2 linked regions of the Homo sapiens genome follow. The protein of the gene in region 2 interacts with the protein of the main gene of each other region in a pairwise test. Each region holds a gene or a part of one and is shown on either strand. Other genes may lie near its edges. The genes, in order: HEMK1 and TUBGCP5.

Region 1 (15,672 bases), on a different chromosome or scaffold from region 2:
CCGTCCAATGGCCAAAATTTTTCTAACCAGCAGTGGAGTGGGACACCTGAGTAGCCAGGCATGAGACAAGGAAAGGGCAGTGTAGCTCCTTCTCAAAGGCATCCCTTTGGATGTGGGCAGAGAAGCCCCCCAGAGGGTCAGGACTCCTGGGACCCCAGGTCTCAGGAAAGACTGGCTCAGGGAGCTGGGGATGGTGGGCAGCAAGTGGGTGCTTCCCTGATCTGAAAAGAGGACTACCTATTCCAGAAAGCCTTCCTCAAGCCTGGGCCAGGCTCTACCACGGCTTTCTCCACCCTGAGCCTAAGGTCTAGCCTAAGGATGGGGTGTGCCTCTCCCACCAGACGCCATAATAGGAAGACCTGAGGTCTGACTCATCGCAGTGTGTCCCACACTGGCAGGGCTTGGCCCACAGACAAACCTCTTGGCTACTTTCTTTTTTTCTTTTCTTTTCTTTTTTTTTTTGAGACAGAGTTTCGCTCTGTTGCCCAGGCTGGAGTACAATGGCGCGATCTTGGCTCACCGCAACCTCCGCCTCCCAAGTTCAAGCGATTCGCCTGTCTCAGCCTTCCCAAGTAGCTGGGATTACAGGCATGCACCATTGTGCCTGGCTAATTTTGTATTTTTAGTAGAGACAGGGTTTCTCCACGTTGGTCAGGCTGGTCTCGAACTCCCGACCTCAGGTGATCTACCCGCCTCAGCCTCCCAAAGTGCTGGGATTACAGGTGTAAGCCACAGCGCCTGGCCCTCTTGGCTACTTTCTAAGTGATGGGCAAGCTCTCTGTGGCACCACCCTCTGAGTCTCACACCCCCAGGTCTCCCCCACACCCCAATGCCATCAGCCAGGCCCAATGGAGCAGAGGGCTCCAGATCACTCACACCCATTTTCCACATAAGTTCCCCAGTGCTGGGTTCCAAAAAGCATCTCACCCTTCCAGGCCCCCAAACCCAGCAACAATGTTCACCCACCCTGAGGGTGGCAAGTCCAAAGCAGGCAGAACTTGGCCAGCAGGTCCAACCCTCCATGTTCCAAGCCTCTTCTGCACCTAACAAATGATTGCCTGTGGGTGAGGGGGCCCAGTTCCAGCAGGAGAGAGTGTGTATTCACTAGCTCTCACCAGCCCTGTGCCAGGCACTACTGGAGACCACTAAGGTACTTGTGGCAAGCTTAGCCTGCAAGGTTGGGCCAGGTACAGAGTGAGCAGTATAGGGCTGTGGCTGAGAGCCTGTGGTCTCAGTGGTGAGGCCACAAGCTGAGAGGTTGGTAGGGTGACCAGTTGTTGTCAGGTGTGTAAGCCTCTCTTGGTTTCCTGGTCATAGACAGACCTACTCTGGCTGGAGAATGACCCCTCAGCCAGCCACACTGGCCAGCCACCTCACAGAGATACTCAAAGACCTCAAAGACACACACCACGTATGTGGATGGCCACCTTGGGGAGGGTAAGAAGCTAAGAAACTGAGCCCCTGCCACCACTAGTGGCCTCTTGTTTGCCATAACACTCCAGAGCACCGGAAACTCATCTTGGTTGTAGAGCCACCTGGGGCAGGGGTAGATAACAGCCCAAGGAGTCCAGAAACTTTCTCTTCTCCTCCTAGTGAAGAGCCTCCCTCAGCCTAACGCTGGTGGCTCTTTCGGCAAGACTAAAAGCCATGCTGGTCACAGGCTCAGGGCACCCCCTCCAGGTGAATATGGTAAGAATCCAAGAACAGGGTGGGGCACAGACGCATGCGGGAAAGAGGTGAGGGGCAGGCAGTTGTTGGCTCTGCCTAGAACTGCTGCCCCAACATGGACTCCATACCCCATCAAGAGGCTGGCCCAAGGCCTGGGCAGAACCTAAGTGCCCATGAGTACCCTCTATTAGGATGGCATCCCTGGTGGGGCAGACCCAGGGAGGTGGCATTGCCTCCTTCAAGCCAATCACAGACAAAACACTGAGCCTCCCACAACCTGTACAGCCTCACAGCAGGCTGGGTGAGAATGGTTCACACCCCCAGCCCTGAGTTTCCTACTGTATTCACTGCCAGGCCAGGGGCTGAACCACCTTCTCACCCTTAGGGAAAATGCAACTCACTGGGCACATGCCTCCTGCAAGTTTGCACTTCAGACTCCCCTTTCATCAGAAACCATCCCCTGCACCCATTCTCACTACTCCCTGCCACAGGCCACGTCCTCTTGAGTTCTTGGTAAGGCATCCCCCGATGTGGCTTTACATTGGGGTGAACCTGGTGAGTTCTCAGAAATGTCTGCACAGCAAGATGAGCACCTGGCCTCCCAATCGCAGCATCTCCCCTCACCCCACCCCTTGCAGTAGAGCTGCTCTCTTGGCCCAGACCCATCCAAGAATCAGGGGGCCACATGGGAGCCAAAGTCCACACTTGATACTCAGAACCCTGGCACATATGGCTGGTGCCAGGTCAGCTCTGAAGGAACTCAAAAGTCACCATGCCCTGACCCTGGGAAGCCGGAGACAGCAAATGATCTCTTCGCCAGAGATCACGTGTTTTCAGGAGCCACAGGTAAGCCTCCCAAAGTCTGCAGGTGGCAGGCCACACCCTGCTCTGGGTCTCCATACTGTGTCCTAGGTCATGCCAATCCCAGATGGGGCAGCCCCATGTGAGGGATGGGGCTCTGAGCTGGGAGTCAGGAAGTCCACGTGCTGCCCCCATGCTCCCTTCCTTGACAGCCCTGTGACTTCAGCAAGGCCTCAGATTCCCTACTGTCCCTGCCCTGACACTGGGCAGTGAAGCAAGGACCTGGCCTCCCAACCACATGATATGGAGAGGAGAGGGGTCAGAGAGTTTCTTGGCTAGGGGACAGAAGCTGAGAAAGTGAAAGAAGGGTTTGGGGCCCCCTGGCCACAGCAGGGGAATGGGAACTAACCTTTCCCAGAAATGTTTGTGTGCCTAGGTCTTTCTAGAAACACTCCTTCTCAGAACCTGGCGCCCTCTGGCTTGCCCACCAGCTCTCACCCAGCTCTACTCCCTGGTCTGCGCCCTCTGGCTCCCAGCTCTGTCATCTACAAGGTCAGAGGGGAGTCCAAGAAGGGCCATATAAAGCGTCTCTTCCAGGACCAGGGTGCCTTACCAAGGGATAACACACTTGCGCCACACATCCCTAGTCCTAGTAATTTGAGGGACAACACAGGTGATTACCAGACCAGTCAGTAGACCTAAGAGGGCCACCAGATTCTCTGGGCTGGAGGGCTAACCCTCTCATCATCTGGGCCCAGAGATGGCAGGAGGGCAGTGACCTGCCCAAGGTTGCACAGCTGATACCAGGTCTCCAGGTGTCCGGCTGGAGCCCTCTCCACTTCCTCCATGCCTCCTGAGAAGCTGCTGGAAGACATTTGTTCCCTGTGGGTTGGGTGAGCCATGGGATGGCTCCCAGAGAAATGGCAGAACAGGCTAAGTACTTGGGCAGCACTATTTGAGGCACTCTGGGCCATTGCCAGACCTAGAGGCTGGGTTGATAGCTTGGAACATAACAGTCAAGGGGACCAACAGGAATCCTCTGTCCTCTGGGCTCTGCCAACACAGTCAGAGAGGAAATACATGTCTAGAAAGGCACTGTCCCTGAAGTCATGGGGCCCCAGTGCCCCCTGGAGGAAGCCTGGGGTAAGACTGGTGCCCTGAACTCCACCATCATCCTGATCCTGCCTTGCCCTGGTGGCACACCTACCTCTGTTTCTGGCCGAGGAATAAACACTGGGGGCACCATCCTTAGGCTGAGCCCCTGGAAGTCCCACTCTCCAAGGATGTACTGCACCGGCATCCTGCAGAGGGGGCAGCTGGGTGGTCATCAGGGACAGAGCTAGGACCAACAGGACCATGCCTGGGTTGAGATACCACTTGTGGCCAAAGGTATCAGGCAAGACCATGTCTCCAGGGCCTTGGGACTCCTGAGGCAAAACCCTCCCTCCCTCCCTTCTTCCTATTCAGTACCCCGGCCCCACTCTTGCCACTCCTGCACCCCAACACCTCCCTAGTCCTTGGACATTCTCCTCCTCCCTGAACTTGGTGGGGATAGGGGAGGCTGGACTGCTGCTCCCTGAACACATCCTTCAGGTCTGATCCATGGGTGCTCACCTCTGCAATCGACGGCTACTCAGCTCCCGGATACACTGTAGTTGCTGAGAGGTCAAGGGCTGGGTCCAAAGTGCCGGCCTCAGGCTCTGAAACTGTCCCCACAGAGAATATAAGTGGCTGGCTCACTGGGCCCAAGGCCCCCAACCCAGGTGTCTTATGTGGATAATGCCTGCCCAGCACTGGTCTGGAGGCCCAACCCTCTCATCATCTGGGCCCAGAGGGGGCAGCATCCTGCCTAAGGTTACACAGCTAACACCAGGCTTCCAGGTGTCTATCCCAGAACACTTAGGCAGAGATATATTCATTCATCCAACAAACTGTTACAGTGTGTGCCAGGCGCTAAGACGTTCCTTCAGAAAAATCCCATCAGTCTCAGCTAAGCACTCTTAGTGAACAGAAAACCTGGATATCCCTTCCCCAAGTCCTCCCTCCTCCCTCTTCCTGTCCTCTTGACAACACTAAACTTAACTGTTTTGGCTCCAAGGACATGAGCCACGATGTACTCACTGGATTCCCGGGCCTCAGGGATACCCCTCTTCTCAAAGACCCCAGTCCAGTGGCTGACCAGTTCTATGGCACTGGATAACCCAGCCAGAGGTGGTTGGGGTTGCCATGAGCTGAAGGCCCAGCCCCGGGTACTTCCCCTCCTCCCTGGGCCAGACAGGAGGGCCCACAGCATTCGGCCCCAAAGCTCCATGTCTCAGGGAAAGGTTCTCCAGAGTGCTTCCAGGTTCCCAAGTCTGCTTTATGATGTCAGCTGCTGAGGTGAGTGCTGAGAGTGGCCCCTGGACCCAGCTGGGTGGAGATGGAGAGGTCACAAGCTCTGGTGCCCCAAAATGGCTCTGGTCCTCAGATATAGTTGGTTGCCACCCTGGGAGTGAGAGGAACCAGGAAAGCAGGTGAGCCTTGTATGACACCCCCCCTTCTACCAATACATTGCCTGAGAATAGTTGTGCTCTTGCTCTGACACCCCCTTGACTCCATTTAGAGCCTTACCCACCTATTTGATCATTCTTGTCTTGGCCACTTACGTTTTCTTCACATTTTTAGCTGGAGTGGGCTGAGCCCATAGCTCAGTCTCTGCTAATAAACGGGTTGGTGGTAGGTTAGGGCACATATGTGGGGACAGGACAGATCTGTGTCTAACCTAGCGTGTGTGATCTTGAGCAAGTCATTATTTCTGATTTTCACTTTCTTAATCCATAAGATGGGGGAAAATCACACCAAACCCATGGCAAGCAATGCATTAGTCTATGAATATCCAAGGCCTGGGAGGCAGCTCAACACACAGCAGGGACCAGATGTTACATGATCTTAACTGATGTTACAAGAGGCAGATGATTGCCTTTAATTGGGAGCTTTGAATCTGACATTGTGTGTGTACTGTCATGGATGTACATGCTGAAAATTTCCTCCTAATTTAACCTATAATCCGGGACATCAGCGTAAACCACCAACTAAAAAATTTACAATTGTATATTTAAAGAGGTCACAAGCAAGTTTAACTGAAGGTTTAAAATCAGCGGTCCCCTTTGCTTCCAGATAAAAGTCCAAACTAGCGTTTATTAAGCACCTGCTAAGTGCCACATCTTCAGATACAAGTAGGGTCAGAGAAGGGAAGCGACTTGCCCAGCGTCACTCAGGTAGAAACTGTCCCAGGCAAGCTGGGCACGGTGGCTCACGCCTGTAATCCCAGCACTCTGGGAGGCCGAGGTGGGCGGATCACGAGGTCAGGAGTTCGAGACCAGCCTGGCCAGCATGGTGAAACCCTGTCTCTACTAAAAATACAAAAAATTGGCCGGGCATACTGACGCGCACCTGTAGTCCCAGCTACTTGGGAGGCTGAGGCAGGAGAACTGCTTGAACCCAGTTCAAGCAGGCGGAAGTTGCAGCGAGCCGCGGTCATGCCACTGCACTCCAGCCTGGGTGCCAGAGAGAGACTCCGTCTCAAAAAAAAGAAAAAAAAGACTGTCCCAGGCAAGACACGAACCCGAGTCCACCAGACTCCAGAAGCGGCTCTTGCACCAGTGCGCCGTCCCAGGAGCCAAGGCCCGAAGTCAGAAGTGTAAACTCCCTCACAGCTACGCACCGCATTGTTAACGACCCAGATGAGGCCCCCTCTCTCCAACCCTGTTTCCCCATCTGCACTATGGAGAATGGTACCGGCCAGGTCTCCAGGCGGTTGCAGTCGAAACACCCCGTTCCGATCCCCACCTCCCATGCATACCTGCCTGAAAGGCTGCCCCACCCACCCACCAGCCGGAGAAGCTGCCCCGAACTGGACGCCCGGACGTGCGTGGCCCGTCGCGCGCTCCCTCGGACGCCCCGCTTCCGGGGTCGGCGCCTTTAAGAAAAGGCTCGGGCGGACGCCGTAGCCCAGCTTCAGTGTTCCTATCGCTGGTGGGTTCCTCCCAGGAGACCCCTGCGGATGGGTGGGGAGGCTGTGAATTCCACTCCCTCTACGCTCGCAGGCCTGCATACAGGAAAGTGCGGGGATGTGTGTGGGGTTGACCCTTGGGGGCCCGGACCTGCCGGTCTTCCTTAAAATCACAGCAGGGATTTGGCTCCAGCCCAAGGGGATTGCTCCGAGCTGGCGTTTAGGAACCAGGCCGGGAGGTGTGTGGGCGGAGCCCAGTAGCCTGCCGGAAAGGGGGCGTGTCACCAGAGGGCCCGGGTGTTCCGGCGGGGACCAGATGTCCGGGGGCGTGGTCTATCTTAGCCTGGGGGCCGGGTGGAGCTGTGCATGGGCGGGTTCCAGTGTTGAAGGCTGGTCCAACTTTGGGGTCCAGTCCCAGTGTCGTGACCCTACCGAGGTCAGTGGCCCGAGCCCACCAGGGGGTCGGCCGACTGGCGGCCAGACCCCAGGGGCCGCTCTTTTACCGATTCGAATCTTGACTCTATTGGCAACTCCTCCAGGTGTTGGGACCTCTGGACCTCAGTTGCGCCTTCTATAAAATACTCGGCAGCGTCTCGCAAAGTGTGTCTTGTCAACATCTCCCCACCAGAAAGTACTGTTAACTAGAACACTGTTAACTACTTTTTTTTTCTTTTTTTCTTTTTTTTTTTTTTTTTTTTTGAGACGGAGTTTTGCTCTTGTTGCGCAGGCTGAAGTACAATGGCGCGATCTCTGCTCACTGCAACCTCGGCCTCCGGGTTCAAGCCATTCTCCTGCCTCAGCCTCCCAAGTAGCTGGGATTACAGGCGTGAGCCAACACGACCGGCTAATTCTGTATTTTTAATAGAGACAGGGTTTCACCATGTTGGTCAGGCTGGTCTCGAACTCCTGACTTCAGGTGATCCATCGCCTCGGCCTCTCAAAGTGCTGGGATTACAGGAGTGAGCCACCACGCCCGGCCTTAAACTGCTATTAAACATGCTGTTTCCCTGCCTCCTTCCCAGACCGGGAGACACAGGGGCGTTTGCATTTGTACCAGGCTACCCGGTGACTCCCATAAACTACTTTGAAAACCGGCGGATCAGGAGTATCTGAGGGCTCCTTCCCTGAGCTGATCATGCCGTGGATGGAAGCTATTGTGAGGGTATATGTAGACTTGCCTGGGTCGGGGTGCCCAATAATAAATCCACCCCACTCTCAACTTCTGTAGACGAAGATTCCCCATCTTCGTCTAGAACCCTCACACCAGAGGACCCGTCTGAGTAGAAAGCCAAGGTTCAGGAAGGGAAAAGCAGTTTCTTCAAGGTCACAAAGTCAGCCAGAGTTCAGTGCAGGCCCAAGGACTCCCAGTCCAGTGCTCTCCCCAAGTCTCCTCTGTACATCCATCCGCGTTTTGGGGGCTTGAGTCTGTCCTGGCACGGGTAGCTGGCAGGGGTCCCGAGTTCTGGCCCGGAAGGGCCTGGCCACCCACTGTCCTCCGCCCAACTTCGGCGCAGGCCACGGGGTGAGGGTAGTCTCTAAAAACTGCGACCAGGTTCTAGGCTCCCTCTGGGGGTGGAGCCAGACCCGAGCGACAAGCGAACGGTCCAATTCTGGGCGGGCTCTAGGCCCGACAGCCAATCGGAGGCCGGGGGCGCGGAGCGTGCAGGGAGGCAAGGCGCTGTAGCTTCGGGGATCCCCCGAGGCTGCTCGGCCCGGCCCCACCTCCGCCGTGGGTCCCGGCCCTACCCACCCTAGCTCAGGCCGGCAGAGCCAGCGCTCGCGGATGCGGCTGGTGCGCAGTAGCGGGCCTGGCCAGCGGCTCGGGGCTTGCAGGGAGGGCGGATCTCGGGTCGGACCCGCAGCCCCAGACGCCGGGCTTGGGGGTTCCCCCCGCCCCGGCCTCCTGCCAGTCACTACCACCCCTAGCCTCTCCAACTGAGCTCGGCGCCGGGAGAGGATTAAGTAAGTGCTGAGGTCACTGCTCCTGTGCAAGAAGGGAGGCATCACAGGGTCGCGGAGGCGGGCATGGGGATTGGGGCAGGGAGGACTGAGAGACCTGGTGGAGAACAGCATGCGGGTTCTCGAAGGTCGCGGTGCCGACCCCTTTTACCCCGGTTTCCTTCCCTTCCCCTTTGGACCCTGAGGCAGGCCTGGAAAGTGGTCAGTAGGGCCTCTTCTCTCCTTTGGGAGGCGATGTTAACAGAGCCCCAGGGCACGAGTTAAGGGTTTGGCCCAAGGTCACGCCCGGGATCAGTTGCAAAGCCAAGAAAAGAACCCGGGACTTCCTATGTGCCCAGATGTGCCCAGCCTAGCTGGAGGGAGAAGGCAAAGAGGGATGAGCCTTTCTACCCCATAACCCTCTGCCAGCCTTGCCCCTTCCTCAGGGACCATCAGAGGTGTTTACACATCTCACACACGCCCATGCATCTGCACAGGGAGGCAACCCCACTAATGCCCATGAACCAGCACAGGGGGATGTATGCACCCACGAGCTAGGTATCCCTCCTCTCCCTAGGCCGTCCCATCTGCAGCTTGGCTGGCACCTCTTCCCACCCCACCTTAACCAGGGCCCTCTGCACTGGGCAAATCTCTCACCCTCTGCTTCCAGGGGAGGAGGGTAAAGGAAGAGAAGGCACCCACACTGGGAGCTCCATTCCTGCCTCGCCTTTCTCCTTGACCCTAGCAGCCCCTCTATTGTTGGTGGGTGGGGAGGGCAGTCCAATGTCCCCGAGAGCCTGCGGAGAAGCCCCGCCAGAGAACCAGAGCCTCTCTCTCCTTCTTGTCTTCTGGTCTTTCCACATCAGCCTCCACCCACACTCCAAGCATAGTCTGGACCATACAGTGGACTGGGTCCAGGGGCTCCCTTGGCTCCCCTTTGTGACTGGGTTGGCCATGGGGAGAAAATCTAACATGTAGTGGATGCTTACTGTGGATGGGGGTTGTGCTGAGCTAAGTCTTTCTTCGACACCTGTTTGTTCTGCCATTTCTGTAACCCCATGACCCTGTGGGGATGTTCTCAATATCCCCACCTTAGACTCAGGAAAACGGAGACACAGAGAGGTGGAGTGACTTTCTAGGGATCACTAGTTAAGCAGCTGAGCTAGGTTTCAAAGACAGGCCTGTCTGACTCTTGGGCAAGTGTTTCCCTCCAGGAAAGGAAAAAGCTGTGGTATTTTTTCCCCCAAGCAGGATGAGGGATGTGGGAGGCAGGGAATGAGGAGGTGGATATGGGGAGGTGGGGGATATGGGGACGCAGGTTGAGGGGAGTTTTTGATCAGGGGAGGGAGACTTTTTCTTTCAAACATCCCCGCTGCCTTTCATATCTTCCAGGTTTGATCACTATGATCATCTCACCCACAGACAGAGGATGCAGGGCTTCATTTTTGTTCCCAAAAACAGGGGCACCGTAGATACGTAAAGTATGTGTCCTAATGTCTCCTGAACTTACCCTCATTCTTGCCCTCAAACCTTTACCTCCCCAGTGCTTTCAGAACCTAGAGAGACTTCATCTCACTACTGAGCCCCTGTCCTTAGCCTCATGTTTCTTATTCTTTCCTTTCTAGCACCCAGGAAGGCAGGGGGCTCCCTTTATCCAAGGAGGTGGCTGTGCAGGTGGCCACCACAGGTGGCAGGAACCACAGGCTGGGGCACTCCGGAGTCAGGAGTGAGTGGGCAGGTTGACTGGCATCAGGCAGCCTCTCAGCCAGGGCCCTCTCCGCATCAGCATGAACTCCAGGACCGCATCTGCTAGGGGCTGGTTCAGCAGCCGCCCACCCACCTCTGAGTCTGACCTGGAACCTGCCACAGATGGGCCAGCCTCCGAGACCACTACCCTCAGCCCAGAGGCCACCACCTTTAATGACACCAGAATCCCTGATGCAGCTGGTGGCACGGCCGGCGTGGGTACCATGCTTCTGTCCTTTGGGATCATCACGGTGATAGGCCTGGCTGTGGCCTTGGTGAGAGCTGGGGTAGGCTGGGGGAGGATAATCAGTGTTTAGATTTATAGAGAACCTAATCAATCAGAAGACAATCTGGTTGTTGTTATTGTTGTTTTTGAGACAGAGTCTTGCTCTGTCATGCAGGCTGGAGTGCAATGGCTTGATCTCAGCTCACTGCAACCTCCACCTCTGGGGCTTAATCGAGTCTCCTGCCTCAGCCTCCCAAGTAGCTGGGATTACAGGTGTGAGCTGCCACGCCCGGCTAATTTTTGTATTTTTAGTAGAGATGGGGTTTCGCTATGTTAGCCAGGCTGGTCTTGAACTCCTGGCCTCAAGTGATCTGCCCCCGTTGGCCTCCCAAAGTGCTGGGATTACAGACATGAGCCTCTGTGCCCGCCAACAATCTATTAATGAGAGTGCAGTCCTCCTCTCCTGCAGAGATTTGTCCACTGGGGCCCAGAGACCAGAGAGGCTACGCTTCCAACTGGAAACAACAGAAAAGGTTCTTGGGAATACATGGTGTCTTGAGCTGGGTCATGAAGGCCACATAGTAGTCAAGGAGTTCCAAGTGGAGAGTCCTGATGGGCAAAAGTTTGGAGGCAGACAGAGGGTTCTGTGAGCAGCCAGCAGGACAGTTAGGGCAGTGGATGTGGGGTTGCAATAGAAGAAAAGGCTTAAAGGTGGTTGATGTGGACCGTGGGCTGCAGAGTCTGGGTAAGATGATCTGTGCATGGGAGGCTGTTGGCAGTGAACATTCATTTATTCACTTGGCAATTATTTACTGAGTACCTGCCCTGGACCAGGCCTTTGGAACCCAATAGAGGCTGGGAAGACAAGGTCCTGCCCTGTGGTTCTTACAGGGAGTGGGAAACAGATAAAAACCAAGGGTTCCAAGGGAAGCCTGCAGGGACTGACTTGGGGACTCAAGCAGGAAAGCAGGAATGCTTTCCAGACTAGGTGGTTAGGAACAGCTGAGGAGCAAAATTAGAGCTGAGACCTCAAAGTGGAAGCCTGGCCTCCGTGTCATGAGAAGGGGTGGAGGTGGCAGCCATCAGGAAGGAAGGGGGCTGGGGAGAGGGCTGCAGGTATCCTTCAGTAGTGAGTGTGATGCCTCTTGATCTGGTGTCAGTCCCTAAGGATATGGGCTGTCCCCCTAAGATGATACATGGACACTCAGAATGTCACTGAGGGACCACTGGAGATCGTGCAGGCTGAGACTAGGGAGGATGGGGTGCCCCTGAGGTTCCCCAGTATGCCTGGCAATGGTAGGATTCTGCCCACTGCTCCTCGCAGGCTCTGATGGCTGGCCTTGGGCTTAGGAGCATGTTGCTCTGACAAGTAGGGCTGTGGATGGCCCATCATGGCCTGGTTGGAGCTGCTGTTAAACCAGGGTTGCCATATGGGCCCCACAGGCTCCAGATTGCTGCCAGGGAGCAACTGCCAGCCAGCAAGCAGGCCCAGGGTGCAGCACAGGCAGAATGAGGCCAGGGCCTGAGAGGTCTCCTGGGTGGAGGTAAGGCAGGATGCCAGTGTTTTCCCTTGGCACCCATGCAGTGGGTAAGCAGATGGAGGCACCCTTAAGGGCAGAATGGGGCCTAGAAACTGCCCTCGTTACTTTCAGTGAAAGGTTTTGTCCTTGGAACTTGAGAACGCTCTCTTACTCTTTGTTCTAGAGGAACATTCAGAAGGCCTGGGTGGATGCCCCTCTTGCCAAAATCAGAGGTAGGAAGCTCGTAGGACAAAGGCAGCGGAGGGCAGAAGATAGCTCCTGGGGACCGGAGACAGGCCCAGAGGTGCTCACTGAGTGCTGCTTCCTCTCCCCGATGCCAGCCTCAAGCAGGGCCGTGGGTACAAGGAGGAGCAAATCTGCACCAGGCTTTCTGCCTTACCCAGGAAGGAAAAGTGCTTGGTACAGGCAGACCAGGATCAGTGGTGGGGGAGGTTCCTGGAGGAGAGGGGGCTGCACCTGCTGGACAGTGAGGGGTAGGGAAGATTTGGAAAGGAAGGTGTGGGGGTGGCTGTTAGCTGAGGAAGAGGGGAAAAGGCATGGAAATTGCGTAAAGGTTCTGGCCTTTTCTGTAGATCCTTCTGAATCCCAGGGTCTCAGGGGAGGGAGGAGGGCTTGGGGCAAGGGCTGAGAGGTGGGGACCACAGGGGCTGGGGCTGGGGCTGGATCCACTTGCTCAGGGTGGCAGGGGCTAGGCCAGAAGACCCCAGAGTTCCTGTCACAGCCTACCCACAGGAGAGCAAGGGAGCACCCCTACATGCAACCCTGGACAGGAGGGGAGAGTGAGGATTGATACCCTAGTTTCTTTTCAGGTTTTGGGGGTCCTGCAGGAGGAGCTCTGGGCCAGGCTGGAAATCAAACCAGATTCAAGCTGTGAATGGGGCACAAAGAATGTGGGAGGATTTGGGGTAAACCACAGGGCTGTGCTTTCCCCGAGGCAGAGGTAGTCATGCTCCTGGTAGTCAGAAACTGCCAGTTTAGGGAAGAGCAGGATGATGGCAGAAGTCCCTGGATTCCCCGCCCAAGGTGGTCCCCCAAGTCTTACCCACTTCCTCCCTCTCCTCAGGGCATTGTACAGGGTTTCTTACTCTGGCCTAGAGGTCCTAGATGTTTTCTCAGGCTGCCTAGGCCCTCATCTTCAAGGTTGTACAATGGGGGACCGGACCTAGGGGCCTTCTTAGGTTCCTCTTGCATCAGAGTTTTTGGGAGTTGACCTGGGCTGATGCCTAGGGGCTCCAGTCCCCCACCCCTACCTTAGTCCACTGGGGGCCGTCAGCCTCCCATAGGAACTCCGGAGACCACCAGCTCAGGGCCTTGCCTAGAGCCACTGCTCTACACGCTACAGAGTCTGGCCACTGCCTGTCTCTGGTTCTTTTTACATGTTGTAGAGACGGGGTGTCAGTATGTTGCCCAGGCTGGACTTGAACTCCTGGGCTCAAGAGATCCTCCTGCCTCAGCCTCTTGAGTAACTGGGACTACAGGCATGTGCTACCTTACCGGGTCCCTTTACTTTTTGCCTGCATGTGGCTTTGAGCCTGGGAAGAGTTGAGGGGAGGGAATGTGCTGAAGTTTTCCCTTTCTTCTTCAGCCCTGGGGAGCCACAGGCAGGTGCTGAGTGGCTGGAGCTACAGTTAGTATTGGCAGCCCAGCCAATAGGTGGGGCCCACCAGTCCCCAGGCCGGGCCTAACTGTGTGGGCTCCCAGGCTGGAGGGAGCCTCTTGAGTCCCCAGACTCAGTCTGGGCACTGTCTGCAGCTAACAATGTCAAAAGGAGGCATGGGGCCAGTGTGGTGGCTCACGCCTGTAATCCCAGCACTTTGGGAGGCCGAGGCGGGTGGATCACAAGGTCAGGAGTTCAAGACCAGCCTGGCCAACATGGTAAAACCCCATCTCTACTAAAAATACAAAAATTAGCCGGGTGTGGTGGTGCACACCTGTAATCCTAGCTACTCAGGAGGCTTAGGCAGGAGAATCACTTGAACCTTGGAGGCGAAGGTTGCAGTGAGCCGAGATTGTGCCACTGCACTCCAGCCTGGGTGACAGAGCAAGACTCTGTCTCAAAAAAAAAAAAAGAGGCATGAAGGTGAAGGGGGAGTGGTGTATGTGTCATTAGGACGGGGACCCACGGGTCTCTTGTTCATCAGCCTCAGCATGTCCCCATCCAGAAGGGCTGCTGGGTTCCTCAGGGCCTCCTCTCCTTGCCATTTGATGCTGCTCCTTCTCTTGCAGGTTTTGTACATCAGGAAGAAGAAGAGGTAATTCCCCACCCAAACCCAAATCCCACCCAAAACTTGAGGCCATGGGGAGTGCTGGGCTGGGCTCCGAAGGAAGTGGGTGAAAAGCTGATCAGGGAGTCAAGGCCTGTCCTGCCCATTCATGGTTGGGGGTGACCACTTTCCTTTGGGGAGGGTTGAGGGCCCCCCTTGCACAAGGATCTCACACACAGGGCAGGCAGGTGTGAGGATTCTAGATAACTGGGTATAATCCTGGGACTGGGGATGGCAGGGAGGGGGAAGGCTGGGATTACTCCCACCCAACTGCCCAGCCACCCTTGCCCTGCTGCTCTGAGCTGACTGCTACTGGCTCCCCAGTCCCACCTGAGACTCAGACGCTGTGGATTACAGCAAGGCCCTAGCCTAGGTGATCTCTGTGGGGCCCATGGATGACAGCTACTTGGCGTATGGCCTTACCCTGGAGTGGGTAACTGCTGCCTCCCTGGCTACCCATTTAAGGGGTTGAGCTGGTACTATAGGTGCAAAAATGTCTGTCATTTTTTCCCATTTCAAGGGAAACCTTAAGGCCCTAAGCATGGTTGTGTGCTGTGGCTCAGCTAGTCAGGAGGCAGGGCCTGGAGGGCTGCTGGGAGGGGAAGGGCCTGCCCTGTCCCCAGCAGCCTTTGCCCCCATCCCCAGGCTGGAGAAGCTACGCCACCAGCTCATGCCCATGTACAACTTCGACCCCACGGAGGAACAAGATGAGTTGGAGCAGGAGCTGCTGGAGCATGGGCGGGACGCCGCCTCTGTACAGGCTGCTACTTCTGTGCAGGCCATGCAGGGCAAGGTGGGCACTGACCAGGCTCCCCACCCCGCCTGCAGCATCCTCTGTCCTCCACCCTCACCCTCCCTCCTTTCTCATGCAGCTTTCTAGCACCTGCCTTGTGGTCAGATGGCAGGTATTGGGTATACGGCTTTTTCCAGATTTGTTCAGAAAGTGGTCATATTGCTCTGGGGCCACCCACAAACTCACAGCGCAAGGCCAGGCCAAGGCAGTCCTGGGATACAGCCTGGCTCTGCCCCATAGCCTGCTGATCTTGGGAGCCCCACTGGCATCTCTGAGCCTCAGTGTTCTCTTCCACAATTGAAAATCCTAATTCTTGCCCCATGTGCCCCCACGTACTGGTTAGGAAAGTAGGAAAGGACTAATGGGAGAGACTGTTGGCGGCTAGGACCCCAGGTTCCTCTGCTTCCTGAGGGTCCGTGGTCCTGAGTGGGTTGTGGATGGGGTTAGACTCTTGGACAGCGGTACCTCTGAGTAGGCTGGTGGATTCCCAGTGGCTGACAGACCCAGGCATGTGAAGATCTCAGCCAAACTTGCCTCCTGTGTCCAAAGGGATAGGTACCTGTGTGGCCATCCTGTTGTAACCACTGGGCTGCCTGACCACTTGCCACCATTTCCCCAAATCCCCAAGGGCCAGAGCACCATGAGCAGGCCTGGCCTGCCCCTGACTTATCCAGCCTCTTTGCGTCTTCTTGGGCTCAGAAAGA
Region 2 (14,924 bases):
AACTCTTGACCTCAGGTGATCCACCCACCTTGACCTCCCAAAGTGCTGGGACTGCAGGCATGAGCCACCGTGCTCGGCCCCTTTTTTGATTTTATGTAAGAAATCTTTGTCTACCCCAAGTTTGTAGTGTTAATTTCCCATGTTTGCTTCTAGAAGCTTTCTAGTCCTAACTTCCACATTTTGTTGTTTCCAGTTCTAGCTTTCATATTTTTTTTCTTTTTCTTATTTTTTTCTGAGACAGAGTCTCGCTCTGTCGCCCAGGCTGGAGTGCAGTGGCATGATCTCAGCTCACTGCAACCTCCGGCCACCCAGGTTCAAGCAATTCTCTGGCCTCAGCCTCCTGAGTAGCTAGGATTACAGGTGTGTGCCACCACGCCCAGCTAATTTTTGTATTTTTAGTAGAGACAAGGTTTCACCACATTGGTCAGGCTGGTCTCGAACTCCTGACCTCATGATCCACCCACCTTGGCTTCCCAAAGTGCTGGGATTGCAGGCATGAGTCACTATGTGTGGCCTTTTTTTTTTTTAAAGATAGTCTCACTCTATAAAAAGAAAATATGGAAAAATTTAATAGTAAGCATAATTCTATTCAAAATATAACTGGTTAGCTCACAAAAATTGCTCAGAAATATTGCCAGGCACAGTGGCTCACGCCTGTAATCCCAGCACTTTGGGAGGCTAAGGCGGGTGGATCACCTGAGGCCAGGAGTTCGACACCAGTCTGGCCAACAAGGTGAAACCCTGTCTCTACTAAAAATACAAAAATTAGCTGGGCGTGGTGGTGCACGCCTGAGATCCCAGCTACTCGGGAGGCTGAGGCAGGAGAATCACTTGAATCCAGGAGGCAGAGGTTGTAGTGAGCCGAGATCGTGCTACTGCACTGCAGCCTAGGTAACAGAGTGAGCCTCCACATTTCAAAAAACAAGGAAATACCAAACAATAGTATGTACCAACAGTTGGCCCTAAGTGAAGTTGGCCTTTTACATTTATCGCTATCAGTTGAAGCTATTTTCCATGTAGAACTTCTCAGGCACAACAAAACATATATACATTTCTTTCTTTCTTTTTTTTTGTTGGAGACAAGGTCTTGCTCTGTTGTCCAGGCTGGAGTGCAGTGATGCAATCATGGTTCACTGCAGCCTTGACCTCCCGGTCTCAATCGATCCTCCCACCTCAGCCTCCCAAGTAGCTGGGACCACAGGCATGTGCCACCATGCTTGGCTAATTTTTTTTTTTCGGAGTCTTGCTCTGTCACCCAGGATGGAGTGCAGTGGTACAATCTAGGCTCACCGCAACCTCTGCCTCCTGGGTTCAAGTGATTCTCCTGCCTCAGCCTCCCAAGTAGCTGGGATTACAGATGTGGGCCACCACACCTGGCTAATTTTTTTGTATTTTTAGTAGAGACGGGGTTTCACCACATTGGCCAGGCTGGTCTTGAACTCCTGACCTCAGATGATCCGCCCACCTCGGCCTCCCAAAGTGCTGGGATTACAGGGGTGAGCCACCGTGCCCAGCCCTTGGCTAATTTTTAAGTTGTTTTTGGAGAGATGGGGTCTCATATGTTGCCTAGGCAGGTCTTAAACTGCTGGCCTCAAGGAATCCTCTCACCTCAGTCTTTCAAAGTGCCAGGATTACAAGCTTGAGAAACTACACCCAGCCAAAATATAAACATTTCTAGGACAGCTACATCTAAGACAACTTTTAGGGAAGACAACATGTAAAACTCTATATAAAAAGCTTCTGTGACTGTAGGACAGCAGCAAAAGGATAATAAAATGATTTTAAGTCCTTTAATTTATTTTGAATATCAGTAATTACATTTTCAAAATATGATATAATTTAAAGGTATCAGTACCATAAATCTGTATCTTACAGTAGGAAATGTAAGAGTAAACAGCCTATATACACTTTGTACTACTGACACAATTTTATGTATACAACTCTATACAGTATCTACTAATCTCCAGAAAACCCACCTACAATCCATCTGTCTGGACTGTGGGCAAGTGGTTCTTTCTGAGTCAGGGTCTCACTCTGTCACCCAGGTTGCACTGCAGTAGTGCAATCATGGCTCACTGTAGCCTTGACCTCCTGGGCTCAAGTAATCCTCCCATCTTTGCCTCCTGAGTAGCTGGGACTACAGGTACACACCACCATGTCTGGATACATTTTGTATTTTTGGTAGACACCGGGTTTCACCATGTTGCCCAGGCTGGCCTCAAACTCCTGGGCTCAAGTGATCTGCCTGTCTTGGCCTCCCATCGTGCTGGGATTAGAGGCATGAGCGACTGTGCCAGGCTGACTGTGGACAAGTTTTACAAATAAACCAAAATAAAAATATTTTCACTTTTCAGCTGCACATGGTGGAAATGTACATGTATGATGACAAAGTCGGAGATATTTATTACGCTGAAGACATTTAACTTTGTTCCATGCCAGCCATGAGTGACAACGCTAGAGATTCCACTGTGGGAAGAATAAAAATAAGGTTAAAACAATAGGTTTAAATGTTGAAAAAAAATTTTTTTTGAAGACGGAGTCCCACTGTCACCCAGGCTGGAGTGCAATGGTACAATCTCAGCTCACTGCAACCTCTGCCTCCCGGGTTCAAGCAATTTTCCTGCCTCAGCCTGCTGTGTAGCTGGGATTTCAGGCATGTGCCACCATGCCTAGCTCATTTTTGTATTTTTAGCAGAGACAGGGTTTTGCCATGTAGGCCAGGCTGGTCTTCCAACTCCTGACCTTAAGTGATTCACTCAACCTCCCAAAGGGCTGGGATTAGAGGCATGAGCCACCGCGCCAGGCCAGGAGCTTTAAATTCCTAAAAAAATTTTTAAAAAGACTAGATTTTGAAAAGAAATAGTTACAAAAACTACACGATAGTGAAGTGTGACAGAAATCTATTCTGCCATCAACTTTATTTAATAGGAGTTTTAGAAATCTGTTGTAATAAATGGTATACCAGAAAGTAAGATCCTCAGGCTTACACTCACCTCACCGTAATGCTTAAAAAGCAATTCAAAGCATGGGACAACTGCTAAGGGACTTTTCAGTTTTGAAAATGGTGAGAATTTCTAATTCTTCATGGGATCAGTAACAAAACAATGACACATACACTTAGTTACAAGGAAATACAGAGGTAGAAATATTTTAACATGATATACTCACAATGGGGAAAGGATCCTCTACAGACGGCTTTGTTTAAAATGGTTACAAGAAACATATGGCAGTTTTTAAAATCAGATTCCATTTTCTCTATAGATTCCATTCTAGGAATAAAAGTAAATTTCAATTAAGTAAGTGCATTGCGGGTATATAGGTAGGCTTCAAGATATCTGTGGAGTAATTTCAAATGTATTTTGGTTTAATTATTTAAAATCCTAAATCTAAAGATTATAAAATAAAACACATAACGTCCTACCCTACTTTAAAATAAAAAATGTCAAAGTGTTTCAAAGGAAGTTTCATTAGGATATAAAACTGTGCTGTTTCCAGATAGTATCTAGTTCTGGAACTAGGAGGACCAAAGATACTCCCTTTTCCTTTATACAGTCTTGTTTTTATTGTTTACAAGCATACATTCTCTTTGAAATAAAGAACACATTAAGGATATAAAACTTAAAATCTGAAATTATTTTTAAAAAGGTTTTTTTTCTTTTTGAGATGGAGTCTTGCTCTGTCGCCCATGCTGGAGAGCAGTGGCACGATCTCGGCTCACTGTAACCTCCGCCTCCTGGGTTCAAGTGATTCTCCTGCCTCAGCCTCCTGAGTAGCTGGGATTACAGATGCCCACCACCATGTCTGGCTAATTTTTGTATTTTTTGTAGAGATGGGGTTTCGCCATGTTGGTCAGGCTGGTCTCGAACTCCTGACCTCAGCTGATCTGCCCCCACTGGCCTCCCAAAGTGCTGGGATTGCAGTTGTGAGCCATGGAGCCTGGCTGCCTTTTTTTTTTTTAGACAGAGTTTCGCTCTTGTTGCCCAGGCTGGAGTGCAATGTAGCGATCTCGGCTCACCACACCACAACCTCTGCCTCCTGGGTTCAGCAATTCTCCTGCCTCAGCCTCCCAAGTAGCTGGGATTACAGGCATGCACCACCACGCCTGGCTAATTTTGTATTTTTAGTAGAGATGGAGTTTCTCCATGTTGGTCAGGCTGGTCTCGAACTCCTGACCTCAGGAGATCCGCCCACCTCAGCCTCTCAAAGCACTGGGATTACAGGCGTAAGCCACTGTGCTCGGCTTTCTTTCTTTCTTTTTTTTTTTTTTAAAGAAATATCAAACACTTTGTAAGAGAGAACTTCAGAAGGGGTTTCCATGGCCCACTGCCCAGCCATGGCAGGTGCCACATGCCAAGCTTACACCTCCACAGCCCCACCACAATATTCAGAAGCAAACAGGAGACATCAGAGCACCACAGTCATGAATATTTCATAAGTATAAATGTATACTTTAAAGATAAAGACTCCTTTCAAAACACAGCCACAACACCATTTGCTCAAAAATATCATCTAATAGCATTCAAGCAAATTTCACATTGCTTCTACAATTTTTCACTTTTCGGCTTTAAGTCTCAATCAGGAACAATTAACTTATCCATAAACTGCGATGGTTGATAGACTTCTTAAGTTCCTCACCCCCTGTATTTTTCTCACATTTATTTGTAAAAAAAACCTGAAAGAGTTGAATTTCAGCAAAGCATATGCAGCAGTGTTATTTCTCCTCCACCCCAAAGTGAGACAAAAAAAAAAGAAAAAAAAAAAGCAAAATATATTTTGCACACTTTGAGCCAGCAATATAAAGCGAGGAAGACTTCTATTTCCATCCCTGCAGCTATGGCTTCATCTACTACCTTAGTTTCTTGATTCCGAGTACAGCCAATGGGAGATTTCGAATTATACTAGCACTCAAATGAATTCTTACTTCCTTACTGACATGGAGTAAGTACAGTCAACCAAACATGCACTTTTATTTCATGGAAGTAACAGCAGAATTACTGTTGCACTGACTTTATAAACAGGACAGGTAACAAAATATTGAGCTGTACACTGGAGTTAACAGTAGAGGATGGCAGTGCTAGAGGGAGCTGCTCCCGGGCCACTTCCCCTGATTCAGTGCACTTGCCTATGTGATGTGTGTGAATAACAAACACTCTCAAAACACAGCATCTTTTAGAGCTCATCCAAAATACAACTTTGGAGAATAGTCTAGCATGATGTCCAGAATTTGATTTAAAATAATTCAGCAAGTGTGACTGGGGAGGTGGGCACAGACATGACAGAGCTGTCCTCACTGGCACAGCTGAAGCAGGTGCCATCACGGTGTTCACAACACTGTCTTTGCCACTTCAGTTTGAAGGTGTCCATGATAAAAATTTAACAAAACGTACACAATATAACATGAGTATAATCTAAAAATGTTTGCTTGTTTAAATCAGAAGACCTCAGATTTTTAAAAATGTTTTACTTCTCAAAAAATACTTGCACTTTTTTTTTTTTTTAAAGACTGGGTTTTGCTATGTTGCCCAGGCTAGTCTTGAACTCCTGGGGTCAAGCAATCCTCTCCTCTCAGCCTCCTGAATGGCTGGGAAGACCCTGTCTCTAAAAAAAAGGGAAGCTGAAGCTGAAATGGTCACAGTGCAGATGCTGCAGAAATCACATACTTACCGCCAAGTGCCCAGGCCTGCCTGCCAACCGTCTGCAAACATGAGAGCCAAGTTCAACACCTTCATGATAGCTTCTTTCACAAAGCTGACCTGCAGACCAAAGTCACAGAACACAAACTGTGTAACTAGGTTTGGACACTGATACCAACACTTTTACCTATTTTAAATGAATCACAGAAAAAGTTCATCACCACAGTGACTGCCTTCTGTGTATATGGAAGGGTACTAGGCTCTGAACCATGCCCATTTGGGACCAGGCACATGCATTCACTGAATGTAAGATACAAGTGATATTAGCAGTACAGTCAAACCAACAAAACAAACTATTAAGACCTTTTCCTGGGATGGCCATTTAAATTCACCAATGAAACTAGGACAAATAATTGCAATGGTTTTAACATTACTGAATTCTATCTATTCACATGAAGTGGACATGCTATTGCTCCGCAACTGCAGACACAATTTTCCAAATGAATCCAAGAGTAACGCAGAGTGAGTGTTGACTATCACACATAGTTCTCATGTTGCTCTTAGATACAATTTCTACGAATAGGGCACTCCTCCTTCTGTTTTTTTTTTTTTTTTTTTTTTTTTTTTTAAGAGACAAGGTCTTGCTCTGTTACCCAAGCTGGAGTGGAGTGCAGTGGTGTCAGATCATAGTTCACTGCAGCCTCAAACTCCTGGCCTCAAACAATGCTCCCACCTCAGCCTCCCAAGTAGCTGGGCCTCCAGGTATGCACCACCATGTCTGCTAATCTTTTTAACTTTTTGTAAAGACAGAGTCTTGCTATGTTGCCCAGGGTGGTCTTGAACTCTTGGCCTCATAAGATCTGCCTGCCTCAGTTTCCCAATGTGCTGGGATTACAGGCATGAGCCATTGTGGCCGGCCTGGGGCATTTGTTTGTAACCTCATTTCATCTGGTTCTTCCTTAAAGAATATTCTACAGGACAGAAGCTTAATCATCATAAAATTCCAAAGCACGCAGACAGCGCCACTCGCCCAGCAGTGGCCACATCTGCAGGAGACATCTCATGTACCTTTTCTCTCAGCAGACACCGGTCATGGATGGTTGACAGATACCTATAGTGAATTTTAATCAATTGATCTAAATCCTTGGCTTCCTCGACTTGATGTTGAAACTCCAGCCCTGTACTGTGTAGAATCTTGGAAGAGAAAGATAAAAAGCTTCATCAGCAGCCTTCTTTGAGGACTTGTGTGCTGCACACAAATCTTTTTTACTAAGCTCTTCTACTCCTCTCAAATTCTTCCTTCAATAAGCACATCTAGACAGTTTCATAAAGTACCATTCTTCAAAGGCTGGCTGGATACTCTGGCGTTCTGATCCTAAGAGGACGGCGGGGGCAATCCTGTAGGACGCCCACTTGCACAGTGAATGAATGAACGCCAAACTCTGGACTAACAGACTTCCTGGCAGGAAGGGGCAAGCACATTAAGCTGTATATAAGACACATCGATAAAAAAAAAATCAAGTAAATGTGTTACTTTTATACAAATAATTACAGTGAATTTATGTTTCTTAAGTTCCTTTTCTCATACATTGATCTTTCTCTAAAATGAGTATAAGTATACCTCAAATAAAAAACAAACTAAGAAAAAACTTAAACTCTTATCATTTACTCTTAACAATTAGGGGCTTAATGAAGGCCAACCTTGTGAAGGCAGTAATGCAGTCAGGGGAAACGTGGAGCCCCTCTGCCATAGCCTTCCCATCCAAAACACAGGCTTCAGTGGCTCACTTCACCCAAGCAAGTTGGGTTTCAGAACTCACAGACCAGGTATAAACAGGTCTAAACAACAATTCAAACCCCAAATGCATACTGTCCTCTAATAATACTGCTCTTGTTCCAATTTCTGAACGCTTCTTTTAGAACTTCCCCTAGAACTGGCTTTTAGATGTATCAGAAAAATAATTTCATTTACTTTGTAGTGAGTTCTTGTTTTTAAGAAAAAAGTCTATAACCTGGCTGCATCTTCCTCCCACACACCGTAGTGGATTTTGGCTGTTATTAAACATTGGAGCCATTTTTTAGGGACAGCTGTCACCACTATTGAAACCTAAAGGACTATGCGGCACATTCTGAAGGCAATTCCAGAAGACGAGCTGTGGCTGTGCCTGTCCCCAGGGGCTGCTGGACTGGAGGGACAACAGCCTCTGGATACACATATTCCGGTATATTTACAAAAACATTCCTCCCACTGCCATGTTATTTTATGATCAAATTTGCTACATGTCCCGTTTTCACAGTCTGTAGGTATTTTTTACTTATAAACATAGTATGAGTAATTCTCTACGAACAACTGTATAGATACGACGATAGAACTGAAGCAGATGGGAGAGGCACAAACCCTGGTCATGATGTAGTTGTGCAAGCTGTTCACGAAATGCATGAGCTTCACTCTTAAGAGGAACATGCGATGAATCTGCTGTCTTACTGGTTCTTTTTGTGGTCCGAACTGAGCAACTGTGTCTTGTTCATGTATAAGGCCTTCTTTAAGTCGTGGTTTTTCTGCAGTACTAACCAGTTCTATAAAACATTGGAAGAGCAAAGTGGACAGAAAGAGCATCAACTCAAACCCCACTGCACCATGACGCCTGGCAGAAACACTGACGGATGTGGTCCTGGCACCACAGAAAGCACTGGCAGGGGTGGCAGGAACCGAACCTCAGTGCCTCTGGAAGGTGCAGTGGGAAAAGTTTCCTGTATCACTTTTCCTAATCAAGTTGTTGCATTTCAGATCAACTGTACATACAACTTCCTGATCTTTCTTTCAGGCATTTGATGTCCATAAAACTACTGCTAGAATACGCACCATTTTGGCATTTGTGTACACATAAAAAATGATCAACAACCACCAACTTTTTTTTTTTTTCCAGATCCCCGTATGCTTCCCTTTCCCATTAACCTCTTTTATTAAGGGCTAAAATTAAATAAAATTACAATTTATCTGCTGAAAACAAATCTTACCACCAAAAAGTAAAACATCCAGACTATATTTTGCCCACTTTATTTGCAATAAGAGAAGAAACACTTGATTATAAATTTTTTGACATTCCAAACTTATAACAATGTCCACGGGCCATGGGACCTATGAAACAAAAACAAAATTAGAAAGTAACCAATTACTTGCATGTTTTAATGTTAGCAGAAAACACGGTTCATACAAGGAATATCAGCATATACCTTGTAGCTGAGGGTCAGACCATCTAAGATATGAACAGGCAGCTTCTTCTTAGCTGTGTCAACATTTTCAAAAGATATAGATAGACTAAAGAAAGAAATTCCAGTTTTAGTTTGTGAAAGCACTATGTCACACAAAAATGCTCTTTTAAAATAATTGGTATTTCATTTACATAATATTCCCCAAAAGATACTGCATTTCATAAAAGAAATGCAAACATTCCAACAAATGTATCTCTTCTAACATATATTCCAGAGCAGAAATTTGGATTTAGAAACAGAGAGGGAGAAAACTTTTAAACAATGAGTTTAGTTAAAGAGACACTTAACAATGGTAGTAATTAGAAAAAGGATGAAGCTGAGGAAGACAGTAAACTTCAGGCAATGGCTGGGAAGATGAAGCCTCTGCTGAGGTTGGGGGTGGGCAGGAGAGGACGAGCAGAGCAGCTCGACGGAGCCGAGCATGTGGTGAGAGTACTGCTTCGAGAGCCCCATCGAGATGGGATGGGGTCTGCTTCTACACCAGAGGCACTGTGCAGTGCTTCATCCACAAGTTCCTGAGACAGGTTTGAATGTGACTCACAGAGGAAAGCAAGCATCTAACATGGACATGAAAATGTCCAAGTGCCAGGCACTATTATGTGTCCTTAGCTCATTTAATCCTCAAAATACTCCCATCAGTGGTTCCTGAGAAATGATGTCCTCTTCCACAGTCACAGAGGCACTAAGAGGGGATGCCTGGATGCATATGAAGAAGGTTTAAAGTGGGGAGTTAACTTCCAAATCAGAGATGTCACAGGGCAGTGTGTGATTATGAACTGGCTGATCCATGACACAGGCACTAGTCAGAATTTTTAGCTCTTTGCCGGGTGCGGTGGCTCACACCTGTAATCCCAGCACTTTGGCATCCTCGAGGATCACGAGGTCAGGAGATCGAGACCATCCTGGCTAACCCAGTGAAACCCCGTCTCTATAAAAATACAAAAAATTAGCTGGGCGCCTGTAGTCCCAGCAACTCGGGAGGCTGAGGCAGGAAAATGGCATGAACCCGGGAGGCGGAGCTTGCAGTGAGTCGAGATTGTGCCACTGCACTCCAGCCTGGGTGACAGAGCAAGACTCTGTCTCAAAAAAAAGAATTTTTAGCTCTTAATGGCCTGATATGTATGCATTCACTCAGTGCTTAGTAGGCATCTACCAAATACTAATACTAAGTTAGGTGCTGCACTGAGCAGGCAATAGAAAGCCAATCTCTCTTCCCTCCAGGGACTCCCAGCCCAGTGCAGCACACGAAGACAAGGGGGATGTAGGAATGAGCAGACCTCTGCCGGGCCCATGAACTGGAGACTATGTCACAGGGGGGCGGGAGGACAGCACTAGCAGACACCAGAAATATTCTGAAATCCCTGAAACGCGAAGGAAGACAGGAAAGAGAACATGGTGTGTATGTGTGCAAGACATGAGGCTGGGAAAATGGAGCCAGACAGTAAATAGCTTTCTCCCTTCTAAGACAAAGCTTAGTCCATCTGTTTAGGAGGCACCCACGGGGAGCATAGGGATGAGTGGTGGAAGTCACTGCTGGTGGTCTGAGGTCACCCTGGTGAGGGTCAAGTCCGTTTTGGTGGAAGGGAGTGAGGCTGAGAGACACAGAGGTCATTGGGGAGTTCTGAGCCAGTTCTGAGAGGTCAGGGGCATTCTCTAGGAGGCAGGACTGAAAAACCTCATGTGTGGGAGCTCAGGGAGAGGAAGCACTGACTCCAGCCATGTGAAGGAGGCCATCAGACCCTGACAGGTCGTATGGTGGCAACTTTTTTCTTTTTTTATAGGGACGAGGTCCCACTATGTTGCCCAGGCTGGTTGCAAACTCCTAAGCTCAAGCAATCCTCCCACCTTGGCCTCCCAAAGTGCTAGGATTACTGGCATGAGCCACTGCATCTGGCCATATGGTGGCATCTCAACGTCTTTTGTTGTTTAGCAGGAGAGTCACATAGCTAGCCTCTGCCTCAATTTTTTCTTTTTTTTTAAATGGAGTCTCGTTCTTGTCGCCCAGGCTGGAGTGCAGTGGCATGATCTTGGCTCACTGCAACCTCTGCCTCCCAGGTTCAAGCGATTCTCCTGCTTCAGCCTCCCAAATAGCCAGGATTACAGGCGCCTGCCACCATGCTTTTTGTATTTTTAGTAGAGACAGAGTTTCACCATGTTGGCCAGGCTGGTCTCGAACTCCTGACCTCAGGTGATCCACCGCCTCTGCCTCCCAAAGTGCTGGCATTACAGGTGTGAGCCACCGTGCCTGGCCTCCATTTTCTAATAAGTAAAATAATATTAGTAAAACTCATAGGAATAGTGAGGATAAAATAATATGTGTAATTCATAGAAGACTTACTGGCACATAGTTCATGTTACACTAATTTAAATAAAGGTGGCGTCCATATTTTACCGTGAACTATCTTCAGGATAACGCTGTCCTACTGCTTCTTGGAGTTGGACATTAAGAAAAGACACATTCTGCCATGTTTCCTTTTCTCTTATTTTATCAAAAATTGACGTGTAGAAGTCATACATGGTATCTCCTCCTTCCATTAAGAAAAAATTCCTCATAGCTTGCAAGTATTCTACCAACCTGAATGGAGAGAAAATGAGTGACACTAAGATCTCTGGCATTCGTAAGGCAGGATTCTGGATCAACAACAGGTTTTGTAACCTGTTTTTAGTGGAACAAGTTTACATTCTACATTTACTAAAATTAGAAATATTAACACCTCTTAAACTTGTTCCAATAATAAAAACAGCATAGGTTTTCCTTTCATCATCAGAAAGGTTATCTTCTATAACATTATAGAAAATTGGGCAGTCACAAAAATGTAACAAAAAAAAATCCAAATCCCATCATTTATGGTGGATTTCCATCATTAATATTTAATATCTGGAATGTTTCTTTCCTGTCTTCTCTTCTATGTGTTAAGAAAACCTAGTTCCTACCGTATTATATCTCCTGCTTTTTAATTGCCATAATTTTTTTTTTTTTGAGATGGAGTCTTGCTCTGTCGCCCAGGCTGGAGTGCAGTGGCCCGATCTCAGCTCACTGCAAGCTCTGCCTCCTGGGTTCACGCCATTCTCCTGCCCCAGCCTCCAGAGTAACTGGGACTACAGGCGCCCGGCACCACGCCCGGCGAATTTTTTGTATTTTTAGTAGAGACGGGGTTTCACCGTGTTAGCCAGGATGCTCTCGATCTCCTGATCTCGTGATCCTCCCACCTCAGCCTCCCAAAGTGCTGGGATTACAGGTGTGAGCCACCGTGCTCGGCCTAATTGCCATAATTTTTATGAACTTTACAAAGTTCATATGTGGGTATGTATATGCCATATTTATGGATATGCATAGTTTAAAAAACTAGTCATCTATCACTAAGTAATTTAGTGTTTTTCATTCTGATAACAAACTTTGTAATTTTTCTACAAGCTTTTTCTGTATTTCTTTTGGGAAAGATTCTCAGAAATAAAGAATTAAGTTTCAAAACATAGTTAAGAAAATATTGATGGTCAATTGATTTCTCTTAGAAAATTGTTTACTGTATATCCATTTCCTACTCTAATAAAAATTGAAATAGGTTTTAAAATAATCTCAACTGTTCTTCAAGTACAATCAACTATTTACTACTTCCAAAATTAAATTACTCTTTTACCTGTAATCTTTTTTTAGAGTTTGCATGAGATTTCCACAGCAATCTAGATACTGCTTGTCAATATGAGGATAGAGGCAGGATCTCAGCGTTAATTCAAAAGTCTGGCATGTCACAGATTCCGATGATCTATCCACACATACATCACCACCAGCAAACTTCTCGTGAAAGTCACTCTGCTCCAAATACATCCTTCAAGATAAAAATGTGAGTCTTCTTTTTATGAGCTGCTGTCAACAGAACTCTCTTAAATCAAAACCCTGAAGTTCCATTTTTACCTTTAGTCTTGAAGTTACCAACTATTACAGAAAGAGAAAAATCTTTCTCCCAAAAATATCCTTTGAGTGAACCAGTCTCTTGAAGTTGCCACTGACTTAGGGTCAGGTACTAGAGCTGGTCTTTCTAGTGATTAGGGCTGGACACAGCAAATGCTGGCCATTAGACAACCGGGAACTGTGTGGGTATTAATGACTTACTCTAATGGACTAAGTGCCTAAAAGCAGCTTAAGCCCAGGACATATTATATGCCAGTGGGGACCCTGACTCAATGGGTGTCCAGGGCCCACTCATGGCCCAGAGTTTCAGCATCTTCTGGGTAAATGATGACATTTCCAGGGGCCCGAGGGCACAGACAAAAGTTGTACCACATGGTGGCAGGGCCAAGTCTGCAGACTTCCACAAACGACATGGAATCCAAACTATACACCTGAAGTAGGTGAGCACAACATCTTGTATTCTGCTTGTTATAAAGGATAGGCATGGCATGGTGGCTCACACCTGTAATCCCAGCACTTTGGGAGGCCGAGGTGGGCAGATCACCTGAGGTCAGGAGTTCGAGGCAAGCCTGGCCAACAGGAGGAAACCCCGTCTCTACAAAAAATACAAAAATTAGCGGGGCATGGTGGCACATGCCTCTAGTCCCAGGTAGCTGGGAGGCTGAGGTAGGAAAATTGCTTAACCTGGGAGGCAGAGGTTGCAGCAGTCAGCCAAGATCACACCACTACACTCCAGCCTGGGTGACAGACTGAGGCTCCATCTCAAACAAACAAAAAAAAAAAAGGAAAAAGAAAAAAGAAAGGATAGCCTACAAGAGTTTTTGTTTTTAGCCCTACCTGCCAGAAATAAACAGTTAGCAAACATTGCACAAATGATGCCATTTCAATTACTGATAACCTTGCAGGTGTGTCTCACCTTGCAAAGTTAATGGCAAGCAGTGGATCATGAACATCATCCAGTTCAAGATGGCTTTCAGCAATGGACTGCATCTTCATCAGGTTCTCCTTGGTTGCCTGTTGCTCAGTAAGAACCTGTGGAGTGGAATCTTCTCCATGTCGAAGACGGGACTGTACAGATTCCAGAAAGAGAGTGTATAAACTTTTTCTTTCTGCATCTGAAACATAAAGAAATATGTAAGGTGAACTAAGTTCTGTTTAATCATATTAAGTAACATTCTGTTTAATCATATTAACATTAACAATATATTAAGTAACAAAATCTATATATTTATATATAAATATTAAATATATGTAAATATTAAATATATATATTTATATATAGTAACAAAATAATATATATTTTTTGAGATGGAGTTTTGCTCTTGTTGCCCAGGCTGGAGCGCAATGGCGCCATCTTGGCTCACTGCAACCTCCGCCTCCCGGGTTCAAACAATTCTCCTGCCTCAGCCTCCCAAGTAGCTGGGATTACAGGCATGTGCCACCACGCCCGGCTAATTTTATATATTTGTTTTTTAGTACAGACGGGGTTTCACCATGTTGGTCAGGCTGGTCTCAAACTCCTGAGCTTAAGTGATCCACCCGCCTCAGCCTCCCAAAGTGCTGGGATTACAGGCGTGAGCCACTGTGCCTGGCCCAAGAAATATTAAATAATATCATGTCCGGGTGCAGTGGCTCATGCCTGTAATCCCAGCACTTTGGGAGGCTGAGGCGGGTGGATCACTTAAGCTCAGGAGTTTGAGACCAGCCTGGGCAACATGGTGAAACCTCAGCTCTACAAAAAAATTAGCTGAGTGCAGTGGAATGTGCCTGTGGTCCCAAGCTACTTGGGAGGCTGAGGCACGAGAACTGCGTGAGCACTGGCAGGTGAAGGTTGCAATGCGCTGAGATCACGCCACTGCACTCCAGTCCAGTTTGGGCAATAGGAGTGAAACCTGACTCAAAAAAAAAAAAAAAAAAAGAGTAAGATCCTAATCAGCACACTTGAAATTTATTACAATACTGCATAACACTATGGTAACCCTGATAGGAGTCGCAGTCTCATTGGAAAAAACACTTCTGACAGTGGCCCTGGGAAGCTCACTACATAAGAAGGAAATATTCCACAAAGTGAAAATAAGTATTGCATCTACTTATTTCAAGTAGATACA

Evidence for each region.
Region 1: the proteins of TUBGCP5 (region 2) and HEMK1 interact in binary tests that used the Homo sapiens proteins (3 or more experiments, as listed by UniProt).

What each region holds. Positions count from the first base shown.
Region 1 is NC_000003.12:50,560,213-50,575,884, reverse strand, and holds the start of HEMK1 (MTRF1L release factor glutamine methyltransferase), read right to left. Parts: upstream 6,364-15,672; 5' UTR 6,311-6,363; exon of another isoform or gene 5,084-6,310; intron 4,983-5,083; exon of another isoform or gene 4,955-4,982; 5' UTR 4,781-4,954; coding exon 4,553-4,780; intron 4,176-4,552; coding exon 4,084-4,175; intron 3,809-4,083; exon of another isoform or gene 3,771-3,808; coding exon 3,677-3,770; intron 2,515-3,676; coding exon of another isoform or gene 2,059-2,514; exon of another isoform or gene 1,185-2,058; intron 1-1,184. Other genes in the region: uncharacterized protein C3orf18, read left to right, coding at 2,059-2,514, 14,138-14,163, 14,821-14,968. UniProt on the Homo sapiens protein: N5-glutamine methyltransferase responsible for the methylation of the glutamine residue in the universally conserved GGQ motif of the mitochondrial translation release factors MTRF1, MTRF1L, MRPL58/ICT1 and MTRFR.
Region 2 is NC_000015.10:22,997,401-23,012,324, forward strand, and holds the end of TUBGCP5 (gamma-tubulin complex component 5), read right to left. Parts: intron 13,932-14,924; coding exon 13,733-13,931; intron 12,734-13,732; coding exon 12,545-12,733; intron 11,482-12,544; coding exon 11,299-11,481; intron 8,953-11,298; coding exon 8,868-8,952; intron 8,773-8,867; coding exon 8,652-8,772; intron 8,211-8,651; coding exon 8,032-8,210; intron 6,828-8,031; coding exon 6,702-6,827; intron 5,754-6,701; coding exon 5,665-5,753; intron 3,270-5,664; coding exon 3,169-3,269; coding exon of another isoform or gene 3,122-3,168; exon of another isoform or gene 2,884-3,121; intron 2,467-2,883; coding exon 2,420-2,466; 3' UTR 1,777-2,419; downstream 1-1,776. UniProt on the Homo sapiens protein: Component of the gamma-tubulin ring complex (gTuRC) which mediates microtubule nucleation.